Homo sapiens: one gene and its partner. The protein of the gene in region 2 purifies or fractionates together with the protein of the main gene of each other region. This does not show direct contact. Each region holds a gene or a part of one and is shown on either strand. Other genes may lie near its edges.

Region 1 (3,640 bases), on a different chromosome or scaffold from region 2:
AGATAAAGCATCACATAAAAACTATCAACAAGGCTGAGGTGGGTAGATCATGAGGTCAAGAGATTGAGACCATCCTGGCCAACATGGTAAAACCCCGTCTCTACTAAAAATACAAAAAGTAGCCGGGAGTGGTGGCACACACCTGTAGTCCCAGATACTCAGGAGGCTGAGGCCGCAGAATCACTCGAACCCAGGAGGCAGAGGTTGCAGTGAGCTGAGATCGTTCCACTGCACTCTAGACTGGTGACACAGTGAGACTCTGTCATAAAAAAAAAAAAAAAAAAAAAAAAAAAAAAAACACACACACCTATCAACAAAGGAGGGCAGGGCAAGAGCCTGCTCAATGATTACAGGTTACAGGCCATTGGAATATGCCACATCCACAAGTCACAAGTACAAACTTCAAAATTCTGATGATCGCCAACATGGTGAAGCAGGATCCACTGGGCTTATAGGCCCATCTGAAAACGGGGAGCAGAGGATCAACGGAATTGGAACTAGGGATGAGAGAAGAAAAAAACCACATGCAAGACAGAGAATGAGCCTCAGAAGGAAAGTGACAGCATGACACACAACCTCCATGCTTCTTTTCAGCCTTTCCTGGGACCATAGAGGGGCCAAAGCCCTTGAGATTCTCAACATCCACTAAGCTAAGCCACCATGAGTTATGGTTAACTTGGGCTCCTAGAATCTGATCCTGAGACAAGGATTCCTGCTCAAGAGACTTGTAAGGCAGTGTTTTCCGGAAAAGACTGGTAGGGGAGTAGAGAAGGTGGACAAGAGAGGGAAGGAAGTCAAGCTAACATGTGATACTAAGGAAAGTCCCAAGCATGGTAACTTTAGTTCAACTGTACAAAGAAACTGAAAACAGTATGGGTCATACTTTAGAGCTGTTCCATTCTCAAGGTGACAAGATAGGAAACTAATGTCATTACAGTGCCATTGGTTAAGGACTGTTCCCTTTTGCAGAGTGTCAATTCCCAGGCTCCCTATGCACACAGGCAAAACAGCTTCAGGAGCTTTGACAAAGAGATGGGTGCTGGCTATTGGGAGTGAGCTAACACCAAGGCAGTATGCAGGGAAGGGAGTAAGGGGGAAACAATAGGAGCACTAACAGCATCTGCTGACACTTTTCAAGTCCTCATGTCTTTAACACTGTCACCACTTTTTGGAAAAAAGAACATCACTCAGAGCCACCAGCAAAAGAAGGAATCATCAGCCCCTCCAGCAGGGGTGACTGGGTACAGAGGAAACAGGTGGCTCTTGCTGCCTTCAGACTGACACTTGGGAGAAACTTACATTACCTGAGGTATAGGTAAGGGACTGTTAAAGGACACCTGCCCAAAAGCACAGAAGATCTATTTTTCAAATGATTGGTCCCAAATCGCGCCCTTAGTAAAGGCTCCTGGGTGCAAAGCTGCCATACATATGGTGTGTCTGCCAGTAAAGTAACCTCCCAGCAGCACTCAAAAACCCACTGCTCAGACACTACCTATCAATTAGAAGCCAAGCAGGAAAAAAGGTTATTTGAAGGCACTGGTTTCAAGGCACCAGTTTCAATTTGATGATTTCTCATTCACTCTGCTGGCTAGAATCAAAGTAGCATATTGAAAATCCAGGTATTTGAAATAGCAGTATTTAAATTTTTTGTTCCAAGTAACTCTTCTATAGATAAGAGTTGTATTATTCAGCCTGAGAAGGAGAGGTTACATTTTATGCTTTAAAATCAGACTACTATCTGCAATCATCATGATGAAATGGTATTCACCATGCTTGCACATGTGTGGGCTTCTTTCTGGATCTATGCAAAGCAAAGCCCACATTGTCTTTTCCAATGGGTTGGAAGCCAAGCACTCACACTGACCACATGCATGCCACTGTGACAACAGAGACCATCATCAGCTCCACCTTTGGAGCTGATGTGAGAGTGAATGAGACTGACTCACTTTGACATCACCCTGAAAGTGTCTGGCACTGACTGGTGCTCTTTCTCCATCCAGAAAAACCTCACTACAAAGAAAACAATTTCTCAAAGGTGAGGTGTTGGGTCTTCTGAGAACAGGAGTGTCTCTGTTCAAAGAGAAGTGCCCTTTGGCCCCCGACCTACCAAAAAAAAATCACATAACATATAAACTGCCACTTGAAGGGAACAGATCAAGAAGAGCAAGAACACATTTAATTGGATGGAGGGAAAAAGAAACTATTTTCTTAGATAACTAGAAATACACTAATTTCTTACTGAACAGTATTTAATACAAGCTAATATATATTTAAATGTTTCATATTCCAATAATAACATCTTCTAACTATCACAAAAGCAACAGGTATAATCAAAGGGCTTTAAATTTTCCATTCCCAAAAATGTATAAATGCTGTTAGCATAATGGGTAATTATTTCCATCATACATAATACATTGATGTGTGTGTCTGGCTCCAGTGTTCATCACATTAGGAAAGCCCACTAGCAAGTTAAAAATAAAAGGGAACATTGGCTATTTTGATAATACACTAAAATGAATAATCTCTAAGAAACAAAGTGAATCTGAGTAGCAGGCACGACTTCCCTGTGTAACTTATGATTCACATGCATACTGAGAAGCCAGCTTGGCAAGTGGGGAGACCATGGTTAGGCAACTACACAACTGCTTCTCATAGTAAAGCACAAGTGTGTTAATTGCCAGGAAGAATAACAACTGCTCAAAACATAAATCTAGAAGATACTGTCTTGGGTCCCAGAAAATCTCCTTAATTTCATAATCAAGACCCTAAATGATTAAGAACTGGAAACCCATTAACAGAGCAAGGTGCAGCCCAGCAGCCCTTAGGGAAGAACTCTAATATTTGTTTGGGATTAATTATGCCAACCCCTCACACCAATGAAGCTACTTTTTAAGTGTCTTATATCCAAGACCTTTCTCTGGTGACACCAGTTTTGTACATCTCCATAACCTGAGAAAAAGTACACTGAAACCCAAGTTCAGACTCCCACTACTTCATCATTCCTAAGAATTAACATGCAATGTATTCATTTCTAACTAAAAATCAAATTGAGTGTTTTCTCCTACAAGTATTGTCTTTAAAAGCAATCCGATATTAATTCTTGTTCTTCAAAACTAGGGCTCCGAAGATTAAGGGTTTATTCAATTGTCCATTAGCCTCATATGAGCACTATTTCAAGGTCATGGAAAATGCATATCATGGAAAAAAATTCACATGGATTTCAGAGTTTTCTGCACCAAAACAAACCCATAGTTTTATACTTGTTATAACAAGTATGAATGGGATCTAGAACAGGGTCTAGTTTGAGGCACTAAGAAAGTTAAGTCATCAGTTTGAAAAGAAGCCCCTATCAGGGCAACATGAATTCTACTAAAATTGAAGCAAGACCAAACATCAAATTTATGACGAAGTGTGGAGAGAAGAATTGTGAAATCATGACTTTATGAAAAGTTTATGGGGACAATCAGTTTTTAAGTGGATAATTCATTTGAAGAAGGGACGAAGCGATGTCAAAGATGAAGCCTGTACCAGCAGACCATCCACACCCATTTGAGAGAAAAAAAAAAAAAATGTAGCTTGTTTGTGCCCTAATTGAAGAGGGCTGACAATGGTAGAAACAATAGCCAACACCACAGACATC
Region 2 (3,500 bases):
CACCTCAGCCTCCCAAGTAGCTGGAATGACAGATGTGTGCCACCATATCCGGCTAATTTTTTGTATTTTAGTAGAGATGGGGTTTCACCATGTTGGCCAGGCTGGTCTCAAATTCCTGACCTCAAATGATATGCCCACCTCAGCCTCCCAAAGTGCTGGGATTATAGACGTGAGCCACCAGGCCTGGCCTGTTTACAAATATTAATGTCAGGAGTTAAACATCTTCAAGTCCAACCTATGATAAAAGACCAATGCTTCCTACTACTTGCATGGGGTTCACTATTTACTTTTTCTCGGGAGTATCACAGGAAGATCACAATTACACCACTTTAGACTGTACACGCAGCAATTCACAACTTACTCCTGTGTGTTTAGGTGTATCTGGAAGACCTGTATCTGTTAATGAACATTGTTTACTGTCATAGAGGGGAAAATAAGATTCCTGCATCTGGGCCCTTGACTGATAATTAAAGGGGTTCCTGTTACCTGCTCTCCCTGTTACATGCATCTGTCCACTTGGCTAACTTTTAATATGTATATTTTTATATTATGTAAATTCTTAACAGGCCTATCTCATTTAAATTGTATACACCATTATATCTGACATTATTGTAACTACTGTACAATCAATAAAATTCCTATAAGAAACACTGCTTAAAACAAATATCATGCTGAGGGGTGACCTATATCCCACATTAGTTGGTGGTCACTTTATTTATAGGATGCTTAAAATAAATATATTTTAATGAACTAAGTTGAAGAAAAGCACAATTAAAAGCTATCAAAAAAACTGATGCCCAGTGTTGAAAGTGGGGCCAGGTGGGAGGTGTTTGGATCATGGGGATAGATCCTTCATGAATGGCTTGGTGCCTTCTCTCCAGGTAATGAGTAATTTCTCACTCTATTAGTTCTCACAAGATGTGATTGTTATAAAGAGTTTTGCACCTCCTCTTTTCCTGCTCCCTCTCTTACCACGTGACACTCCCGCTCCCCTTCTCCTTCTGCCATGATTAAAGCTTCCTGAGTTCCTCACTAAAAGCAGAACTTGGTGCCTGCCTCTTGTACAGCCTGCTGACCTTTTAACCAAGTAAACCATTTTTCTTTTTAACTTACCCAGCCTCAGCTATTCCTTTAGAGCAAAGCGAAATGGACTAAGACACTTCCTTTCCTGGACAATTCCTTTATGGGTATGTTAGGGTTTGATGCTCTAGGTTTCCTGTTTTTGTGTTCCATGGCTGAGCAAGACCCCTTGTTTATGAACATGAATTCTTTTAAAGAATTACTATGCAATATATCATACACATAAAATGTATATGCCTAGCAATAAATAATAAAAAGAATAACTGGACACCTATACTCAGGATAAGATATAAATATTGCCAAGAATTTTTGAAGTTACATCTTTCTCAGATTTCAACCTTCTTCTCTTTTTGAAATTTAATCATTATCCTGAGTTGTGAATCAATTACTTCCTTGCCTTTTTAAATGATGTTATTTTATATGAAAACAATATAGACTTGCAAAAAATTGAAATTATTGACTATCCTTGTTAATTGTGTTTTCACTCATCATTGTGTTAAAGATTCATCCGTGCTCATGTATTTAATTCTAGTCTAGTCATTCTCACTTCCATACATTATTCCATTATTTATCCATGTTATTCTTGATGGGCTTTTCAGTGGTTTTCAGTTTGCTGCGCTAGACTTTACAAGTTGCTATGAATACTGTTTACATATCTTTCTGTTACTATTGGCCTTGGAACCATCCATTTTCTTTAGAAGACTGTATACTTCTATTTTTAATCAATTTTGCATTTATCTTGCAATTATTCTGAGGGAAACTTTGTTTTCCTCATTCTGGCCTTCTTAGTTAGCAGTTTACTGTAGCCCTTTGAAAATATGCTGATATCACCTTAGATAATTCATTCAGAGAAACTATTAAATTAACACAGTAATGCCAATTAACTGTCTCTGTAGAGCTGTTTTCTGTTCCTTAGAGGCCCCACAGAAGCCTCGGACATGTTCTGGGTGATATGTAAAAGACTTTATAGTTCTATGACATCACATAATTTCCTTTTTTCACAAAATTGTGTTGGTGTTCCCTAAGTATCTTAAATTGAATTAACTCTAAATAAATATATAGGAACTCTGGTGGAATAAGAAAAAAGGAAGTACTACTTCTATCTCAAATAGGTGAAGCAATTACTCATTTCAGTGTCCACTTTCAATTGATCAGTTGATTTCAGCCTTCATTACACTGAGGGTCTAAATTCTTCTCACTAAAGGAGCCTGCCAGATTTAACAAATAAAAATAGAGGACACCATGTTAAATTTGAATTTCAGATAAATAATAAATAAAATTTTAGTGGCAATATATCTAATGTAACATTTGAGATCTACTCATACTAAAAAAAGTATTCATCCTTTATCTGAAATGCAATTAACTATGCATACCGTATTTTATCTGGCAACCCTATATCGATTCTACTAGTTAGAGCACTCAAGGTTTCCCTTAAGCTGTTCGATTTAAGATATTTCTTGTATGTCAAAAAGTCACTAGCTATGGGACACTTAGCTGACTTTTCACTGTTCTTGCCTACATCTTCATTTTATAGAGTACATTACCTTCAAGCAAAACACTGAGAGGCTTCTAAAAACTATTTTGCTTAAGGAGGATCACTTTTGCTCATGGTTCTCTAATAAGAACATTTTCCAAGGTGCAGCAAGTTTCGATCTTCAAAAACCCGCAGCTACTCACAGTGTAAGATGCCTGTCGGGGTGGGGCTCTGGGCCTGGAAAAACTAGAGCAGTCTGGATGCTGCGAGGCGGCGAGCAGGTAAGAAGCTTTTTGAACCTCATGGGATCCCATACTGGCAACTGCCTTGGCAGAATAGTTTATTTAGTCTCCTTTAGCCAATCAGATTGCTGTTTGATTGCCACGCGCTTACTTCCTTCACTACCATCAGTCCTAACCGCAGGCCAACTTTCTTCCCAGAGCTTTTAGGGGCCTGGCCTTTGCAGTTCCAGATCTACTACAGCAAACATCGTTCAAGATGTCCCACCAAGAAGGCAGCACAGACGGCTTACCAGACTTAGGGACTGAAAGCCTGTTCAGCAGCCCAGAGGAGCAGTCTGGAGCCGTGGCGGCGACAGAGGCCTCCTCAGACATTGACATAGCGACCTCAGAGCTGAGTGTGACAGTGACCGGAGATGGCAGTGATAGCAGGGATGGTGGATTCCCCAACGATGCCAGCACAGAAAATCGAAGCTCAGACCAAGAAAGCGCAAGTGAAGACATCGAACTTGAGAGCTTGGAGGACTTTGAGCATTTCCTCATGAGTGGTGAAAGTTTATTCCATTACCCTTTAGTGGGAGAGGAGGAGACAGAAAGGGAGGAGGAAGACGAAGAGATACAAGAGGAGGGAGGGGAGGAGGAGGAAGAGGAGGAGGAGGAGGAGGAGGAGGAGGAGGAGGAGGAGGAGGAGGAAGAAGAACAGCCTC

Evidence for each region. Proteins that work in one complex are often made in the same cells at the same time.
Region 1: the proteins of DCAF8L2 (region 2) and MYO5B purify together in Homo sapiens (affinity purification with mass spectrometry; one large-scale study listed by BioGRID and IntAct). This does not show direct contact.

Annotation. Positions count from the first base shown.
Region 1 is NC_000018.10:50,188,520-50,192,159, forward strand, and holds part of MYO5B (unconventional myosin-Vb), read right to left. Parts: intron 1-3,640. UniProt on the Homo sapiens protein: May be involved in vesicular trafficking via its association with the CART complex. The CART complex is necessary for efficient transferrin receptor recycling but not for EGFR degradation.
Region 2 is NC_000023.11:27,743,844-27,747,343, forward strand, and holds part of DCAF8L2 (DDB1- and CUL4-associated factor 8-like protein 2), read left to right. Parts: intron 1-2,614; exon of another isoform or gene 2,615-2,835; intron 2,836-2,994; 5' UTR 2,995-3,052; coding exon 3,053-3,500.